2 separate regions of the Homo sapiens genome follow, and region 2 is linked to region 1. Evidence: fine-mapped expression QTL. A gene starts in region 1. The other region holds a variant in brackets. All regions are shown on one strand. Distances are between the middles of the regions. Region 1 holds the start of RBM19 (RNA binding motif protein 19). Region 2 overlaps RBM19 (RNA binding motif protein 19).

The links.
Region 2: its variant is fine-mapped to the expression of RBM19 in whole blood (TOPMed, PIP above 0.99). The same link has a PIP of 0.9 or more in subcutaneous fat.

What each region holds. Positions count from the first base shown.
Region 1 is chr12:113,960,702-113,971,121 of GRCh38, forward strand. RBM19 (RNA binding motif protein 19) reads right to left here and starts at 5,624. Exons shown (of 24, transcript NM_016196.4): 1 at 5,491-5,624; 2 at 1,531-1,713. The coding sequence starts at 5,526. RefSeq lists enhancers at 1,836-1,885, 2,026-2,075, 4,046-4,974, 4,975-5,902, 5,861-5,930.
Region 2 is chr12:113,812,377-113,822,796 of GRCh38, forward strand. It overlaps RBM19 (RNA binding motif protein 19), which reads right to left. Exons shown (of 24, transcript NM_016196.4): 24 at 9,681-10,420. Among named protein-coding and RNA genes, the nearest start is that of LINC01234, 44 kb to the left of the region's middle. RefSeq lists enhancers at 5,572-6,499, 6,500-7,425. The variant C/T (reference allele first, on the strand shown) is at 5,141.

The DNA.
Region 1 (10,420 bases):
GCAGGGTAATGTGGGGCAGTGGCTACCACAGTTACCCCACACTGCCCTGGGTTAATTATCATAAAGTAAGCTCATCTGGCTCCAGAGAACAATTCTAGGGTGATAGGGGCACTGGGGTGACCACTGGAGGGACGGAAGAGTACTGGAGACCCAGCCTGAGCTGACGCACTATTCAGGCCCTAAAACCTCCAATACACTCCTCTGAGAGGACTTTGAGAGCGCTGGTTACTGGGGCATCCACCACCGCAAGCCACTCCCAGCCACAGTTAAGGCTGACGCTGGTCAACCAACCACTGCCCCTGGGGGAAGGAGCTGCCATCTGGTTGCAATCCTTTTTAAGACACAGGGTCTCACTCCGTTGCCCAGGCTGGACTGCAGTGGCATGATCATAGCTCACTGCAGCCTCAAACTCTTGGGCTCAAGTGATCCTCTTGTCTCAGCCTTCTGAATACCTAGGACTCCAGGCACATGTCACCATGCCCGGCTAATTTTTTTTTTTATTTTTGTAAAGACGCAGTCTTGCTATGTTGCACAGGCTGGTCTTGAACTCCTGGCTTCAAGTGATCCTCCCACCTCAGCCTCCCAAAGTGCTTGTATTATAGGCAGGAGCCACCACACCTGGCCAGTTACAATCCCTTTTGTGCACACTTCCAAAATAGGCTTGTTATCTCTATAATAATGACATGCTCACGGTACAAAATTCAAATAATATACAAAAGTACAATGGAAGTTAAAAAAGATGTACTCCAATTCCTATCACTCATGGAGAGGAATGATTAGTATTTTGGTACAAATCCTATCCTATGGCCTTCTATGCATTTATCATATATGTATGGATAGAGGAATACGATTGTGTCTATATAGGATCACGAGACATATATATATTTATCCATCATCTGTTTTTTCCTTCTCAACAAAGCATTAGAGATGTTTTTACGAAGTCACTAAATACACGAGTGACCTGAGTGGAGCCCACTCCTCCAGGAAGCTTTCCTGACTCCTCCCTGGTCCGGCTATAGATCTTTGTTCTCCCACAGTCCCTGGGGCTCACCCTATCATAGCACTGATGTCACTGAGCCAAAGCAGCCTGCTGACCTGTCAGCCCCCTGCCTGCCCAGAGACAGCAGGCTCCATGAGGACAGGGGCTGAGGCATCACCTTTTTCTCTAAACTCCCAGCATCATTGAGTGCTTGCTAAATGCATGAGTGAATGGATGAGGTAGAGCTGTGGTTCTCAAGGTGTGGGCCTCAGACCAGCAGCATGGTCGTCACCTGAGGGCTTGTTGGATGTGTGAATTCTTGGGTCCTGACTCCATGCACTGAATCAGATGCTCTGGGGACGGGCCCAGGAAGCTGTTATAATAAGCTCTCAGGTGATTTGTATGCACATGAAAGTGTGTGAATCGGTGAGGAAGAAAACCAAAGACATCACAAAGTGAAGAGGGACGGTCTTTGAACTCAAGTGCTGAGTGAAAGATCAAACAACGTCACACTTGACAGGAAGGTAAGGGTGAGACTCCTGCCCACTCACTGTGATCCGGGATGTGTCGATGAAGCTCTTGTTGAAATGCTTCTGTGCCTTCTGGGCCTCTTCCTCGGACTTGAAGCCAATAAAACCAAACTTGCGGAACTTGCCATCTTTGGTGAACTTCAGGCTGCAGTCTGTCAGCGTGCCGAAGGCGGCAAACAGCTGCCTGAAACGCTCCTCCTTCATCTAGGACAGAGGGAAAGGAATGAGAGACGAACTGGAAAGTCCCCAGAGCAAGGGGACAAAATGGGCTGGAAACCTGAGGCCACGAGATTCTCCAAGGGTGGCCTTAGATGAAGAGGGGCAGAGTGTACTTTTCTAGTTACAACAGGTTCCAGCTCTGACTCTAGCACGAGTTGTGTGGCCTTGAGAAAGTCCCTTAACCACTCACTGATGTGGAAATCATGACTCATAATGGCTGCAAATGACATCTTCCTACCCTATGGGGCTCCTATGAGGATAAGACCAATTACAGAAGCAGTATTACGTCTGCTACATAGTAGATACCTAATAAATACTTGTAGGAATAAATGAAAGAATGAACAGGCATGGTAAGCTATATATATCTTTGTTAATAAAGCCCCCCCAAAAGATGCCCACATCCTAATCCCTGGAAACTGTGGATATGTTACCTTACAAGGCAAAAGGGACTTGTCAGGTGTGACTGATATGGAGATGGGGAGATGATCTGGATTATGCAGCCAGGTCCAATGTCACCTCAAGGGTCCTTATGAGAGGGAGGCGGGAAGATCAGAGAAGATGGAAACAGAAAGATTGGAAGATGCTATGCTATTGGCTCCAAATATGGAGTATATAGCTATGAACCAAGGAAGGCAGGTGCTTCTAGAAGCTGAAAAAAGGCAAAGGGACAGATATTCCCACAGAGCTTCCAGAAGGACTGCAGCCCTGCCAAAGCCTTGATTTTAGGATTTCTGACCTGCAAAACTGTAAGATAAGGATTGTCTGGATTGTTTAAGCCACTAAGTTTGTGCTAATTTGCTATAGCTGCACTAAAAAACTAACACACTATTATTATAATTTGGTCAAGAAGCCCCACACTATGGAAAACAGGCTCCTGGCTTCTCACCATCTTCACTGCAGCCAGGCTACCCTCACAACTCAGTTTTCTAAGCAGATACTGGGATATTTGTGTGTGTGGTAGTGGAGTTGAGGGGACATTCAGGGCCCCACGAACAGCCAAAATAAGTTTGAAAATGCAAGAAGCTAGAGGCCTTGGCAGTCCAGCCAGAAGATGACATTTTCTGAGGTAGCTTCTTACTAACTGATCTAATCAAAATCTCAATCACACTGTGAGTTAGGAATTTTTGTCCACATTTTATAGAGAAAATGAAACTCATAAGGGATAAATGATCTGCCCAAGGCCTACAGAATCAAGGTTTGTGACTCAATTCAGAAATATAAGACAGTGAATTCAATTCCTCAGTGCCTGGGAGAGACCTGGCTCAAGTCTGAATCCATCATTCCTTTGCCAAAAACCTTTCGGTGACTTTCTGGCACCAAAGTCTCAAGGACGAGCACCTAAAGGAAAACATGCAATTCTTCAAGATCTGCCCTGACCAACCTCTTCAGCACCACGCTTTGACAAATTTCTCACAGCCTTCTCACTTCCGAGGTTTTACTTTGGTTGTCCCCTCTGGGTGATATTTCCCAAGACAGGCCCTGGCTAACTCCTCATTCTCAGTTCAATCATCTCCTATTCCAGGAGGCCTTTCTTAGATGCCTTAGATGGACGAGATAACCAACCCTCACTGTGCTCCCACAGCACTCGGTTCACATGTCAGTGATGCACCTTGCATCGTAATGATCTGGTGCCTCTCTTTTCTGCTAGCCTGCAAGTCCCATTAAAAATAAGGACACAGGCTTATCCACCTCTATCTACAGTGTCAGCAATATCACAAGTACTCACTACTAATTATTTCCTCAATTCAATCCCTAAACTAAAGATTGCTCAATTCAATCCCTGCTCTATAAATTACACCAGTGTGTGACCTCAGGCAAATCCCTGTACCTCGCTGTATCTTGGTTTCTTTACCTTTAAAATGGGCGTAAAAATAAAACTTACCTCACAGGGATATGGTGAGGATTAAATGTTACTTTACCTAAAGCACCTGGAACAGTGCCTGGCACACAGTAAACTCTCCAAGTGTCAGCTGCAACTGCCCTTGTTTTTATTATTCTTTCATTCATGAGATAAGACAAACAATGATAAGAGAGTCAACTACACTGTGAAGTGCAACAAAGCTGAATTTGGGAAGAAAAGGAAGTGCAGCCACGCTAAAAATCCTCATCGCACAAAGCAAGGCATCAAGAGACATGTCTAACCTGATGGATGGATGAGTAATAGATATTTTTAAGTATACTACTCAGAGATTATAACAGGATAATTAAAAACAAGAATATTACAGACACTGGAGAGGAGGAACAGATGATCTAAATTCCTTATTTTTCACAGTTGAGGCCTAGCAGATAGTCACTGGGGCAGGCAGGTCAAAAGGAGGAAAGTACACTCCTCAAATATACAGAGATACATGTGAGGAGTCCCAAAAACAAATCAATGAAGATGGTTACTCCTGGACAGAGAGGGAAGGTAGGACAGAGCAAAGACTTTGCTACTCATGTTATACACTACTATACTGTTTGAATTTTGAAAACTGTGTGTTACAAAGTTCCTTTGTCCCACCTGACAAATGAAAAAAAAAAAAGGAAAGGAAAAAACTCACAACATTAGAACAGAAATGGGGGCCAGGTGCAGTGGCTCACGCCTGTAATCCCAGCACTTTGGGAGGCCGAGGCGGTGGATCACCTGAGGTCAGGAGTTCGAGACCAACTTGTCCAACATGGCGAAACCCCATGTCTCTACTAAAAATAAAAAAATTAGTCGGGCTTGGTGGCGCGTGTCTGTAGTCCCAGCTACTTGGGAGGCTGAGGCAGGAGCATCGCTAGAACCCGGGAGGCAAAAGTTGCAGTGAGCCGAGACTGCCGAGATTGCTCCACCGCAGTCCAGCCTGGGAGACAGAGCCAGACTCCGTTTAAAAAAAAAAAACAAAAAAAGAAAAAAACAAAAAACAAAACCAAAAAAAGCCATGAAAGAGAGAGAAAAAAAAGAGATAAGACAAACAATGATAAGAGAATCAACTACACTTGAAACACAACAAAGCTGAATTTGGGAGGGAAAGGAAGTGCAGCTACGCTAAAAATCCTCATCCCACAAAGCGAGGCATCAAGAGACACTGTCTAACCTGATGGAAGGAGCAGTAATCCATTTAAAAACAAAAAAACAAAACAGAACAAAAAACAGCGAGAGAGAGAAAAAAGGATGATCCATTCGAGCCCACCGCATCTAATCATCTAATATTACGTACATTCACCTATTTTGCCTACCACGTGTCGGGTTCTGCGCTGGGCTCCAGGGAAACAAAAAAGTATGGCTGGGTCACCACTCCCCACTTACTGGATAAATGCTGTAAAGCCCTTTACCCACTCCGTATTCCTACTTGCCCTAAGGATGGGAGTGGGAATTGGAACGCAGGTCCGCAGATTAATATTCCCCATGTCTTCCCCAACAGTTTCCAGACTGGGAGAGGAATATAAATACAGTGTCGGACCATGTCCCGGGTCAACAACTAAAAAACAGTGATCGAATGAAAGAGGTTGTGGGAGCAGGGTATTCGCCACAAGGTGGGAGTTGTCATCTCCCCGAGAAGAGGTGTGTTAGGAGTCAGGTACCAAACAACCGGCCGTGAAACCGTAAGCAGTCACTATTCCTCTTTCCTCGGGATCAAATGGGGATAAGCCCAGGATCCCGCCCCCTTTGAGTTCAGAATTGGCCCGGAGTCCTGCCCCAGAGCAAAAATTCTTCGATCACCTCCAGGCATCTCTTCCCTACCTCACAGCTCCCGGCTGGTCTCATTTCAGATTCCCAAGTCCTGCCTCTGCACTCACCCCATTCGGGAGATTCTTCACGATCAGTCGCGACATGGCGCAGGGTCCCCGCTGTTTTGATTCCAACACGACTGGTCAGCGTCTTCCACCAAGTTTCACGCTACCGCCCTGGGCGCCGCCATCTTTACCGAGCCGGAACACAGTCACGTGGCTGAGACCTTGGCCTGACCTGTCCGGAAGTAGGCGTGGCTAATCCAAAACTACTCAGGGAGGTCACACCCCACAAGGGGTGGGCCTGGGCGCTTGCATTTTGCGCAGGCGCAGGGCCTTGGGCGGATTCTGTGAGACGCCAATGCAGCGGAGAAGGCGGCAGGGGGCGCCGGTCCCTAACATGCGCCGGTTTAGCTCGGTGTTAAGGGTCGCGCCAACCGGGCAATCGCGTTCTCTCCTTTTTCTTATTTTATTTTTATTATTGAGCCTTAGGACTCCCCTGAGAACGGGGGCAAGATTAGGGACCCTTGCCTTCCTCGTAGAAATGGGGAAAGTGAAGTTTAGAGAGATTGCCAGCCAACACAAATCAAGTATTGAGCCTTTTGTGTAAATACTTGGAATGAACATGTTGGAAATAAACGCTCTCATTTTGCAGGCAGATAAACTGGGAATCGTGCGTGTAAAGCAGCTTGCTCAAAGTCTTATAACTATGAATTGGAAAGTCAGATTCGAGCTAGGGACTGCCTAGGGCCCTACAATGAGTCTCTACGCCTTCAACCCCAGCCCCACAAGCATTTTGCCTCCCTTCCTAATGTTTGGAACTCTCAGCTGGCCAATCTTCTAGCTGAGAGATCTTGGCCAAAATGGCCTCTGAGCCTTTGTGTCTACTTCTATAAAATGGGAATAATTCTTTATTATGCTAGGGGTTAAGGAGGTGAGAACGTGAAAGGGATGTTATTTTCCTATTGCTTCTCTGAGCATTCTCGGTACCTACTCTTGGATGGAGACATCCTATGAAAACCCCTATTTTCACTCTTAAATGACGGTATTTCCTTTCTGTTTCCCCACAGTGCCTCAGCTGCACTGGACGTTGCTGCCAAGCTTCTGCAATTTCCTTCACCTAAAAGACATTCCGTCCCCCCTTCTTATTGTTAACAGCTTTATCACAAACCATGCAATTCACCCACTTAAAGTGCACAATTCAATGGTGCTGACTATATTTACAGAGGTGTGCAGCCATCACCACAATCAATGCTAGGACATTTTCATTACCCCCAAAGAAACACCACACCCTTTAGCTATAACCTTCCAATTCCTCCCTCTCCCTTCCCTCTGATAACCACTAATCTACTTTCCGTCTCTATGGATTTGTCTGTTATGGACATTTCATGTAAATGGAATAATACAATATGTAGTCTTTTGTAATTGACTTCTTTCACTTAGCATAATGTTTTCAAAGTTCTTCCATGTTGCAGCATGAATCAGCACTTTATTTATCTGTTTATTTATTTGAGACAGGGTCGGGCTCTGTCACCCCGACTGGAGTGCAGTGGCACAATCTCAGCTCACTGCAACCTCCGCCTCCCAGGCTCAAGCCATCCTCCCACCTCAGCCTCCTGAGCAGCTGGGACTACAGGCACATGCCACCATGCCTGGCTAATTTTTTTTTTTTGGTAATTTTTTGGTAGAGGCGAGGTTTCAACATGTTGCCCAGGCTGGTCTTGAACTCCTGGGCTCAAGCAATCCACCTGCCTTGAACTTTCAAAGTGCTGGGATTACAGACGTGAGCCACCACACTTTTTTTGCTGAATAGTATTACATATATGGATGTATTACATTTTATTTATTCATCAGTTGATGATGGACATTTGGGTTGTTTCCGCTTTGTGGCTACTGTGAATAATCTTGCCGTGAACATTTACCTGTAAGTTCCTGTGTGGGCATATGTTCTTATTTCTCTTGGATATATTCCTAGGAGTAGGATTGCCTGATCATATGGTAACTCTATGCTTAACCTTTTTAGAACCTGCTAACCTGTTATCCAAAGTGGCTTCCCCATTTTATATTCCTACCAGCGGTATATGAAGGTTCAAATATCTCCACATCTCCTCCAGTGTTTGTTATTGGGTCTTTATAATCATAGCCACTCTAGTGGGTGTACAGTGGTGACTCAATGTTTTGATTTGCATTTCCCCGATAACTAATGAAACAGCATCTTTCATGTGCTTTTGGCCACTGGAATATCTTTCTGAACCCATTCCCATCCCCTCTCTAAGACCAGCTCAAACATGGCATCCTCGAATATGCCTCTTTCCTACTGAGCCCCAAATGCAGGGAGCTCATGCATCTGCCACAGCATAAACCTACAGAACTCGCTGGTGAGGAGCGCACAGTGTAGGTTCAGAGTTATAGATGAGGCCACTTGTTCTTTCTACATTATGTTGCCATAGGGGCATCCTTAGATCCATCTTTGCAAAGCATCACACTGGGCACCAGGAGGAGACAGGTAATAGGAGTTCATTAAATGCTAATTGTAAATTAAGGTCTGTCCATTCAACAGAATTCTATGCAGTTGTTAAAAAACGGTAGGTATGTAGCTATAAATGTTTTTGAAGGAAATGCATCAGTCAGCAGGACACAGAGGTATACTCAAAAGGATTTAACAAAAGCAAATCTGGACAAAAAGCTATTTACAGAAGGGTGGGCAGTGTAGTGGGATGAATGATCCCCTGTCCCCTCACCACCACACACACTGGGGGCATCCTGACCCCTGGAAGCTGTAAATGTGACTTTATTTGCAAAAAAGTGTTGTATTAGTTTGTTCTCACGCTGCTAATGAAGACATACCTGAGACTGGGTAATTTATAAAGGAAAGAGATTTAATGGACTCACAGTTCCACATGGCTGGGGAGGCCTCACAATCATGGTGGAAGAGCAAGGGATGTCTTACCTGGTGGCAGGCAAAGAGAGAATGAGAACCAAGTGAAAGGCTTTCCCCTTATAAAACCATCAGATCTCGTGAGACTTATTCACTACCACGAAAACAGTATGGGGAAACCACCCCCATAATTCAATTATCTCCCACTGGGTCCCTCCCAGGACACGTGGGGATTATGGGAGCTACAATTCAAGATGAGATTTGGTGGGGACACAGCCAAACCATATCAAGGGTCTTTGCAAATGTACTTAAGGGTCTCAAAATGAGATCATCCTGAATTATCCTGGTAGACCCTAAATCCAATGACACATGTCCTTTTAAAGGACACACAGAGAACGTCATGTGTAGGTGGAGGTAGAGTCTGGAGTGATGCAGTCACAAGTCAACGAAGACCTGGAGCCACCAGAAGCTGAAAGAAGCAAGGAAGCGTTCTCCCTTGGAGGTTTTGGAGGGAGCATGGCCCTGCTGGTGCTTTGGGGGATTCTGGCCTCCAGAAATGTGAGAGAATAACTTTGCATTGTTATGCCATCTAATTTGTGGTAATTTGAGACAGCACCTGCAGCAAATGAATACAGGAAGGGTTAAGGGAACCAACAAAGGATGGCCAAACCCCAGGGCCTGGCAACAGTGGGGAGCTATCACCACCCCTGGGGCTGAAGGGCAGAGTAGGACATGTCATTCCTGAGCTTCAGTGATGCCAGGAGCCATGGAAGAGGGACGTACTTTAAGGACTAGAGCTATAGAGAGATACAGCCACTGTGGAACCACAGGTGTGTGTGTGTCGGGGATAAATACACTGTCCCCTCTTTCTCTTCCCAACTGCAGTTTCCTACTGGAGCCTCCCCTTGGCCGAACCAATGGGAAGCTGGAGGCATGATCACAGATGTTGCAGTGCACACAGATTGCATCTGGGGCACAGAGCAAAGTGGAGGAGCAGGCTCAGGGAATGGGAGATGGGCTGTTAGAGAAGAACTAGCACATGGGACATGGGACAATCTCCAAAATATATTGTTAAGTGAAAACCAGCAATATACTAAATAATGTATTATGTATGCTTTCACTTAGGTAAAAACAAAACACACACACAAAAAAAGGAGGGAGATGGGTGAGGATACATAGATACTTGTCATGTTTGTAGGCCAGGGTAGTCGTAAATTTCCAAATGTATTGTCTTGCAGTTCTGAAGGCTAGAAGTTCGAGATGAAGGTGTTGGCAGCGCCGGTTCCTTCTGAGAGCCGTGAGGTTGAATCTGTTCCTCCCTGTCTCACTTCTGGTGGTGTGCTGGCAATCTTTGACACTCTTTGGCCTGTAGACATGTCACCCCGATCTCAGCCTTCATCTCCACATGACAGTCTCCCTGTGTCCATGAGTTCATGTTCAAACTTCCCCATTTTAAAAGACATTGGATTAAAGCTAATTCTAATGACCTCATTTTAATATAGTTACCTCTGTAAACACTCTATTTCCAAATAACATCACTTTGTGAGGTATGAAAAGTTAAGACTCCAACATAGGAATTTGGAGGGGACACTATATATGATTTATGTAAGCAAAGGCGATCTCAAAAGATACATGAGGAAGTGGTAACAGCAGTTGCTTCTGGGGAGGGGACCGAGGAAGTGAGTATACGGATGGATGGAAATGTCCTTTACCTTGAGTAACCTTTTATAATTTTGATATTTCATTATGAAAAAATTACCTATTATTTTTAATACATTAAAATGTTAATCATGTATAAACTACATCTGCATATATTTATACTTAACCATAGGGTAAAGTCAACAAGCATGTATATTAATTGTGGGCATTTCTGCAGGATGGCTTTGGAGGGGTGAAATTGTAGGGAGCCCAGTAAATCTTTATGTATTTATTTTGGGTTTTGTCTTTTTTTTTTTTTGAGACGGTAACTGGGATTATAGGTGCACACCACCGTGCCTGGCTAATTGTTTGTATTTTTATTACAGATGGGTTTCACTGTGTTGGCCAGGCTGGTCTCAAATTCCAGACCTCAAGTGATCCACCTGCCTTGGCCTCCCAAAGTGCTTGGATTACAGGCATGAG
Region 2 (10,420 bases), 150 kb before region 1:
GTGACTCAGCTCCCACCTGCGAAAGTGCTTTGTAAACTGCAGGTGTACAAGGTGGCAGCGATGTTATCGCCTGGAATCTTTTTGGGGACCAGGAGAAGGGAGGGCTCCTGACAGTTTCCAGGAAAGGCAGGAGCAGCTGCTATCCAGAAATCTGCACAACAAAATGTCTGCTATTGGCCTAAGCCCAAGGATGGGACATGGTGGCCCCAGTGGACCGCTTCCATGAAATCTGCAATTATGGGGAAGTGGGGCTTATTAAGGAAGCTGGAGGGGAATGCGGCCCTGGCTTCTAGCAATGCTATAATTAGATTGCAGGGCCCCTTTTACTTTGCTGACGATCCAGAAGGCCTTGGCCCGGGGCTTGTGCTGAAATACCCTGGCCTCCTGGGCAGCGGGTGATGGCCCAAGCCTGTCGGGGTGCAGAAGGACACTGCCTTTATGTTGGGGGGATGGGGTAACAACAGCTGAGGCTTGTGTAGTGCTCATGTGGGGCCGGCGCCATTCTCAGCCTTCACTTCATCCTGGCATCTGCAGGAGTCTGTCCTGTTCTCGGTTCACAGGTGAGAACACAGGCACAGAGAGGTCAAGGAGGTTGCTCAAGGTCACATTGTGGCTAAGTGGCAAAGTAGTAAAGAAGGGGTATGAATGATTGAAATCAGGGGTCGCCAAACCACAGCTCGTTTTTCTTTTTCCTGCTACTGTTGCCTGGTCTTGTCAATAAAGTTTTACTCAGCACATGTGCCGAGGCAGCATAGCAGAGGTGAAAGAGCCGGAACGGGGAATTCTGCCACAGTGTGACCTTGTAGAAGACACTCTGGGCTTTCTAATCTGTAAAATGATGGGGGTTTGCTTTAGATCGGGGTCACTGCACTTGATGCAAAGGGCCAGATGGTAAATATTTTAGGCTTTGCAGGTCATAAGGTCTCTGTTGCTACTCAACTCTGTTACATGCAGCAACTATTGACAATATGTAAACTAATGGGCATGGCTGTATTCCAATAAAACTTTATTCACAAAACCAGGCAACAGCAGCACAAAAAAAAAAAAAAAAAAAGAGGGCCATGGTTTGCCAACCCCTGATTTTGATCATTCACGTCGCTTCTTTACTACTTTGCCTCACGAAATTCATGTTTTTAATACTTTTCTTTATACGAATTCACCGGTATTCCTTAGAGCTTAGCAACACCATAGGTTTGATGACCTAAACAAATACAGGTTTGTATTTGTGGCATACATGTGAAAATAAACTTGTGAGTTAAAAATTAAAAAGAAAAGTGTGTGGGCCACCTAAACCATCTCCTGAAGCACAGAGGTCCGTGCTCTGTGCTTTGGGAGACATTTTTTAGTTCAATATATTTTTTTTCGAGATGGAGTCTCACTCTGTTGTCCAGGCTGGAGAGCAGTGGCACGATCTCGGCTCACTGCAACCTCTACCTCCCGGGTTCAAGTGATTCTCCTGCCTCAGCCTCCCGAGTAGCTGGGACTACAGGCACGTGCCACCATGCCCGGCTAATTTTTTATATTTTTAGTAGAGATGGGGTTTCACCATGTTAGCCAGGATGGTCTCCATCTCCTGACTTTGCGATGACCCACCTTGGCCTCCCAAAGTGCTGGGATTACAGGCGTAAGCCACCGCGCCAGGCCTAGGTCAGTGTTTTTCAAATCACTGAGGTGTTGAGGGGGAAGAGGAGTCTGGGTGGGGGAGGTCAGGCCTGTACCCTGACTTGGAACAAAGCAGTTTTGCTTAATCTGTTTAAGACATTTGTTTGGGAAACGGGTTCTGGGGCCAAAGGAGTTTGGAACCATCTAGAAGTGGCTTCAAAATGAACTTGAGGCCTGTGCAGTGGCTCATGCCTGTAATCCCAGCACTTTGGGAGGACGAGGCAGGAGGATTATCTGAGGTCAGGAGTTCATGACCAGTCTGGCCAACATGGCAAAACCTCACCTCTACTAAAGATACAAAACTTAGCCAGGCATAGTGGTGCATGCCTGTAATCTCAGCTACTTGGGAGGATGAAGTGGGAGGACTGCTTGAACCCAGAGAGGCAGGGGCTGCAGTGAGCCAAGATCGCGCCACTGCACTCCAGGCTGGGCGACAGAGTGAGACTCCATCTCAAAAAAAAAAAAAATAAAATAAAAAAATTAACTTGAAGCATTGAAGCTATGAGATTTCCCAGGTCTGTCTACACGGGGCTGTTAGTTCCCATGCTGACTCTTAGATTTCTTTTTTTTTCCCTTTTTTTTTGGGAGACAGCATCTCACTCCATTGCCCAGGCTGGAGTGCGATGGTGTGATCATGGCTCACTGCAGCCTCGACCTCCTGGGCTCAAGTGATCCTCCCACCTCAGCCTCCTGAGTAGCTGGGACCACAGGCCCACACTACCACAGCCGGCTAATGTTAAAAATTATTTGTAGAGATGGGGTCTCCCTATGTTGCCCAGGCTGGTCTCGAACTCCTGGCCTCAAAGCGATCCTCCCACCTCAGCCTCCCAAAGTGCCGGGATTACAGGAGTGAAGCACCGAGGCTGGCCCCTTTTAGATTTCTTAACCAAAGAAGGATAATTTCCTGTTATACCTCGGTCCAACCCTCTCTCCTCAACCTGAGACACGTATCCTCCGGTGTGTTCTCCACCTCTTAGCAGTCAACAGCTTACCGAGTTTAAAGCCAGTTCCTGCTTCCCTCCAAGCCAGCTCTTCCTGCAATGGTCTCAGCGCACACTAGCTTCCTTCTTCCCACTGCTTGGGCTGGAGCCAGGGCGCTAGCCTTGGTTGTGCACACCCCACAGCCAAACCTTTAGGCCACTGGCTGCATTTTCAGTCTGTCTACAGGCTTGGGCCACCTCACCCCTCCACTGCCACCTCCCTGCTCTGAGTCACCACCTCCCTGCTCTCCTGGCCACTGCAATGGCTTCTGAACACCTGTCCCTGCTTCAGTCCTTGACCTTCTGCTATTGATCCTTAACATGGTGGCAGACTGGGCCGGCTCTGCTCCCCTCCACAGGCCCAGACTTGACACCCAAGCCTGAGCCGGGTTGGCAGGCCCCTGCCCACTCTCCCTGGCTTTTTCTGGGGCCCGGGCTGTCCCCCTCACTCTCCCTTGAGCACACAGAGCTGTCCCCTTCCTCCCAGCTCTGCTCACATGCCACCTCCTCAGGGAGCCCTTCCTTGACCCTGCCAGACATCCCCAGAGAGAATGGAGCCTCAGCAGTGCCAGGGAAGCAATCCTCCACCCACTCATGTCTGGGTCTCCCCACATTTGACTACCAGCTCCTCGAGGCCAGGGAGTCTTATCTGCTGTGTCAACTCCTGCATTCCCAGCATCATGGCCATGCCTGGTGCACATAAGCTCAACACACATTTGCTGGGTGTTTCAGGTTTGAACCTCTCCCTTGCGCTCCTGGTCTGTATGAGCCCTGGAGGATGAAGCCAAGGACTCAGTCCTTGGAAGCCAACTGTCCTGAAGGTGGTCTCAGGGCTGCCCCCATCATCCCACTCTACCCTGAAAACCTATGATGCCTGGTCAATGCCTGGCACTGTCTGTCCACAGCCATAATGAGCTGCCACGCATGCCCACTGGTCCGGCACTGATGGCATTTGATATTTAAAAACAAAACAAAAAACACACTAGGGGTTCCATGGCAAGCAGGAGCTGAATAGGAGAATCTCACTGGGGGTGAGGAGAGAGAGCCCTTCACCCACACCGCCTTGAGGACAGGGCTCGAGTCGGCACACATTGGGCCTGCTCTTGCTGCCTTGAGGATAAGGCTCGAGCTGGCACACATTGGGCCTGCCCTCGCTGTAAAGAGGAGACAGCAGTTCAGGCCCTGCAGCAGGAGCGAGAGCACAGGGTGTGCCTCTGAAACCCAGCATAGGGCCGGGCCCCCTGCATGTGGGAACTGCCCTCACTGCTCTGGGGAGGTAGGGGCTTGGGCTTGTGCCAGAGCGAGCTGAGTGTGAGCCTGGTGGCAGCCCTCTGTGCAGCGCCATCTTGGGAATGTCACCCACCTCTCCATTTCTACATCTCCCATCAACTTACCTCTCACAGTTGCTAAAAGGACAAAGTGGGGCCACTGATTCCTTCCTCGAGTATTTACTAAGCATCTACTCCACGATGCAGCACGCACAAAATGGGCACAGACCTTGCTCTCCTGGGACTTCCGGTCCAGAGAGAGAGGTCAGACATGAAATAAAAACACAGAAACTGTTCACAGCTGTAAGGAGCTAGGGAGGTGTTCGGTGTGACGAGTGAATCTAACGAGGGGCCGGGGCTTGTCTAGGATGGGGCTTGGGAAAGTCATCTAGGCAAGGTGACTATTTCAATGGCCTAGGCGGCATGGGTGAATAAATTATTATTATGCAAGCATTCTATTAATCTTTTATTATTAAGACGGCTGAAAAAAATGATTACATATTATTAGTGAAGCTCAGTGGAAGAGAAGTGGGTGGAAAAGCTCTAACCCGAGAGGCCGCTTTCACAGGATGGGAGGATGGGTTACATTTTGCAAGGTGTACCAAAGGGTTAAAGTCATTTTCATTAAAATTTAAATTTCAGCATGCGCTCACTCTCCCTTCCCCGTCCTTTGAACGTTTGACTGGCAACCATTTCATATTTCAATCTCGGCAGAACAAATTGAATTAGATGTTGAAACCAAGCTCGGCTCTGTTCACCAAAGCCTGCGTGCTCTGCTCACACTAATCCTTTCCTAGACGCTGCGGAGCACAGACGGGCGCTGCGAGAGACGGCCCTGCACAAAAGACAAAAAAGACCAAGGCGGCAGGAAAAGGAGAGGAGGAAAAACAAGCGGGCAGAGGCTGCTGGAAATTGTCTTCCACCTGATGCATGGGGCTTAAAGCCTAGGAGACAGAGCCTGCGTCCACGCAGCAGGGAAGGCCAGTGTGGAGGCACACAGAGCGACCCGAGTTTCTGTCTTGTGTCTGGGGCACCCAGCACAGTGTCTCGCACACAGCAGATGCCCAGCAGGTGTCTGATGGATGAATGAATGAATGAATGAATGAATGAGGGAGAGGACTCACTCTATCAGCCCGTGCCTCTAGCCTGTGCCTGTTCCTCCCCTCTGCAGAGTGGGCCCGGCTATTCTCCTCACCCTCACAACTTCCTGAGAAGTGATAGCATGCTGCG[C/T]TCAGTGGCCTGGTGGCTCTCCAGTCCCCGTGCCCAGTGCAAACCAGCGGAGGATGCCAGCTCAAGTTTCTGGGGACGAAACAGGCAGACCTCCGGGCCTGGCTTGGGATCCCAGTGGCACCCCAGGATCACCCCATGTTCGCTGGCTCTTTCTTTAAACTGTGTAAGTCTGTGGAATGACCTAGAGGTGCTGACCCAGGGGCCCCGGAGTCTGGTTTTCAGAAGAGACAGTTCTGCTGCCGTGGCCATGGAGTCCTCACCCACTTGAGACCCCCCAGTTGAAAGGGTTAGGAACAGGCTGGGCATGGTGGCTCACACCTGTAATCTCAGCACTTTGGGAGAACAAGGTGGGTGGATCACTTGAGGTTGGGAGTTCAAGACCAGCCTGGCCCACATGGTGAAACCCTGTCTACTAAAAATACAAAAAATTAGCCGGGCGTGGTGGCTCACACCCGTAATCCCCACACTTTGGGAGGCCGAGGTAGGTGGATCACTTGAGGTCAGGAATTCGAGACCAGCCTGGTCTACATGGTGAAACCCAGTCTCTATGAAAAATACAAAATTAGCCGGGCGTGGTGGTGCATACCTGTAATCCCAGCCTTGGGAGGCTGAGGCGGGACAATCGCTTGAACCAGGGAGGTGAGCCCAGATCACGCCACTGCACTCCAGCCTGGGGAACAGAGCGAGACTTTGTCTCAAAAAAAAAAAAAAAAAAAAAAAAGAAAGGGTTAGGAACAGACACACAGACACAGCAATAGACAGGCAGCTGCTCCTGTGGGGGTGCTCACCTGTTTCCCCACAACCATTGGCCCATTTGGGCTTGAACTTTGGTTCTGTGCAGGAAGAGCCAGGTGCTGGTTTGCCTACTGGGGCCAGTGGGCAGGGGGGCACCTCCTACAGGCTCCTTCCTGGATCATAGGCTCCTCCCCAACATGGCGCAGCGCCCTGTGAGTCCCTATCCCGCCCCAGCCTCTGGACGTGGGCCCAGCTGGCCTGACATCTGCTGGGTGCAGCCCCACAAGCTTGCCTTGTTTTGAAGTTATGTTCACAATAATGATGGCAACTACCATTACTAAGTACTCACTAGGCATGACACAGTCTGCTAACTACTTTCCATTCATGACCTTCTGTTTCTGTCTTAACCAATCCAATGAGGCAGGAATTCCTGCACCCATTTGAAAGACATGGAACGCAAGGCCTGGAGACACTGAGAGCCTAGAGATTCTAACGCAGGCCTTTGGAGTCAGGGCCTGTGCATTCCGCTCTCCTCCTCCCGTCCCCACTGTCTCTCACTCCTGTCCCTCCTCCAGGCCCCACTGTCCCTCACCCCTGTCTGTTCTCCAGGACCTGTCTGACCACCCATCTCCCTCCTGCAGTCTGACTGTGTGTATCCTATAGTAGAGATGCCAGGGCCCTCCTCACCCATCCAGGGGTGGACCCTTGGTGGAGACGCCACGTGGGACAGAGGGAGAGGGCGGGATGCCTGGAGTTTCTCTTCTACCAGCCTTCCAGGCGCCCGCTAGTGCCCACTGCTGGCCAAACTGAACACAAGCCTCTTGATAAGGGAGTTTCAGAGACACAGCTCAAGGGGCCAGGCCCCTGAGACCCACAGCGGGTGGGAGACGGACGTGAGGACAGCAGATGCGGTTCCAGCCAGCCCTCCACTCTGGAAACAGCCTGTCCCCGTTCCTCCCAGCTAACTGAGCCACACTCTGAACACCGGGTCACAGGCCTCATCCAGATGTGTGCCTCTGGCTTTTCTGAGGCACGTGTCCTACTGACCTCCCACCTCCCTGTGTCCCTTTGGCCCCTCTGGCCTCTTGGTGTCACCTCTCCTTTCCTACGCAAGTGCTCTGGTCCAGCCTGTTATGGTTCTCTTTCCCGGCTCTCTGGTGACCATATCGGCAGGGAAGGGTCACAGCCCCCTGAGATGTGGCTGAGGCAGTTTCCTGCCCCCTGCAGCAGTCAGTCCTGAGCCGGGTCAGGAGGCTCACCGCCCTGGAGGAGTGCTCCCTCCTCAGTGCCACCTCTGTGGGTTATTTCTGGAGTTTCTCTCCCAGATCTTCTGGGTGTCTGTGTCTACCAACGTCCCATCATTGCTTCAAAAACAACCGAAGCCGCCTTTCAGAAAGCTCCCGTGTCCCCCTCCCAGTGACAGCGGTGACTCAGTCCCTTGCTGCCTTGGCTCAAAGGCTTAGAGTCTCCCAGTTCAACCCCCACATGCTGGATGGAGGAATTTCTCGTAAGACGCTTTCACCAGTCCCTCTTCTCCAAAGGAAGAAGAGATGAAGCCCCTCCTCTGGGCCAGGCAAATGACTTTTCCCGAGCTCCGCTTTATGGCTACCTGGCTGTACTTTACTGCATTCTAGAACAATGATGATGATTGTAACAAAAATCTTAATTGCTTTCCTAGTTCCCGTTTAAAACAGTTATTTTTGACAGGGTAAAAGGCTCTGGGTCACTGAGATCTTGCTCACACTCCAGGTTGTCCCCTGTACTGAGTGCTGTGACTGAGAGGGACAGGGGATGGGGGATAGGGGGTTGGGGCTGGGTGTAAAGAGGAGCTGGGTGTGGTTACTGCAGACGAACTGATCAGGAGTCTGTCTCCCTCAGTGAGGAAGCAGAAGTTAAACCGGGGCATCCAAACTTTTGGCTTCCCTGGGTCACCCTGGAAGAACTGTCTTGGACCACACATAAAATACAATAACACTAGTGATAACTGATGAACTAAAAAAAAAAAAAAAAATTGCAAATTTAAGGAAGTTTACAAATTTGTGTTGGGCTGCATTCAAAGCCCAAGCTTGGGTTGGACAAGCGTGATTTAAGATCTCAAAGGAAAATAAAAAGGCGCCACGCAGGAAGAATGTGAGGGAAGGGCATCCCAGGCAGAGGGAAGAGGCAGCTCGAGGGCCCTGGGGTGGGAGCCTGCAGGGAGGAAGGCCGGGACAGCGAGTGCAGGGTCAGGTGAGGTGGGGCCTCGGTGCTGGGGTGAGCAGCGGGACTCGACTTTCCATGCGTCAGGGAGGCCCTAGAGGGTTTGAAGCTGCAGACTGACATGATCCAGCTCACGGATCAGTCAGGCCACACTGGCTGCACGAGGACAGCTGAGCCGGAAGAGAGGAGATGAGGGTGCAGTCTGGTGGGCGCGGCATGAAGGGGCACCCTGAGATCTCTGTGGGAGTGGACTCCACTACTCCTGTGTGCTCACAGATCTGCCCCTTCCAAACAGTGCGTGCCTGGGGCAGGGGTGCAGGGGCCAGGCTCAGTATATGGCCTCTAGGCTGCCTCACTCCCCACTGCCAATTCCAGGCCAGGCCTGGCGAGTGGCTGGAAGCTCTCCCTCCTCTTGCTACCTTTCACTCTCCTGCAGTTCCTGAACCTTCCCCAGCTCACCAGCTTTCTTTTGGCCACAGGGAAGGCAGTGACGCAGGAAGGGTTGGACAGCCCTGATTCCCATCATTTCACTGTGTGAGCCCTGGCAGGGGCCTGCAGCTGCCTGGGCCTGATAACGCTTTTGTGACGGAGATGCTACTTGCATCACTCCATTTTAAAGATGAGGAGACTGAGGACTCAGCAGGTTAAGTCACTTGCCGAGGCTCACGAGGCTGGAGAGTGGTGGACTGTTACGGAGCCCAGGCAGATCCGAATACAGAGCCCATGTCTGCTCACCCCGCACCAAGCCCTGGATGATGCTGAATCCTGCTCTGGGGGGAGGTTCTAGAAGCATCCTCTGGGCCAGTTAAGTCAGTGCCAAAAGATGCCTGCCTCTGCACCAGGCCCGTGGGTCTACACCTGAGTTTTGGTGATCAGCCAGCCATCCCTGCTGGCTCTGGTGGTGTGGAAATGTGAGTACAAATTGTATAGACCAGAAGGTTCAGCCAGAAGGAGCCATGTGCCGCCGAACAGGACACGATCCAGCTCACAGATCTGAGCAGTGGGAAGGCATGGGGTAGGTCTCCAGCCCTGTCATTCCGCATGACCTACGGCAACTTGGGACCCTGGTCACCTGAGGGTCGGCCTGGGTGTGGTTTAACAGAGACACTGTTCAGCCCCCACATCCAGAAGGCTGTGGTTGATGTGACTCTGTGAGCCACCCCACTATAAAAGCTGGAGAATGTGGCTGGGCGTGATGGCTCACACCTGTAATTCCAGAGCTTTGGGAGGCTAAGGTGGGAGGACCACTTGAGGCTGCAGTGAGCTATGATCATGCCACTGCACCCTGTCTCTAAAAAAATTAAAAATAAACGGCTGGGGAACGAGCCATTCTGTGTCTTTTGTTTCCACGAATTCTCAGGGATGAGCTTGGATGGCTAAGGGGGTGCCTGCCCTAGAGGACACGAGGCGCATGCTTGGTCGTGCAGGCTGCCAGCTCTGTGTTGCCTTGCCTGGGCTCTGGGCCACTCCGAAAACTGGATGAAGACTGGAACCTCATCCCCACCAAAATGCACAGACCATGTTTTATGCACAGAGTCTGAAGATTCCCAAACTCTCACTTGGAGGCCCACCCAGTGACTCTAAATGAAGAAGAAAACAAAAGTGCTGATGAGAATCTTCTCTGGGCTTTACTTGGCTTGACTCACTTAATTCTGGCACTGTCTATCTGAGGTAGGCACAATTATCACCCCCATTTCCTAGAGAGAAAAACAGAGGCTCAGCCAGGATGTCATTAGTCTGAGGTCGCACCTCGGGGAATGGCGATGTCTAGATTCAGACTGCAGTGAGATGCAGTGCAGTTCTTGCTCTGCCCTCTCCGTCTTGCCCTCTGCCTGGTGCTGGCACAGGCCCTTCCAGGCGGGAGGCTGCGTCTCAGGCTGGAGAAAATGTGAACACGGGCGCCTGAGAGAAGCCTGGGGATGCTGCTGGCCAGCGGAGAGGACCTTGATGCATTTCACAGGGCTCTGGGCCCGTGAGCAGAACGCGTCCACCATGAGTGACATCATTCAGCTCAGCCAGGGAGCTTGGCATCTGGGCTTGGAGCTCGATGCTTCATGAGCCGCTGGGAGGCTTCCCTGGGTGACTGAACCAGGGCTCGTGGTCCCAAGTGACGAGGATGGGGCAGGACAGAGACCAAGTCCCAAGCCGTGAACAGTCCCTTGGAAAGACATAGGTGGGAATTCTAGCTCAGCAGCCCTGGAGGGAGAGCAGGAACAGGGCTCAGCACCATGCCCGGCACTCTTCATGCATTACTGCGTTTATTTCTCTCTAAAACCTTATGAAGTAAGAACTAGCTAGCAAGGGGAAGGCTGGGCCCAAGGAGATAAGGAAACTGGGCCAGGGTCT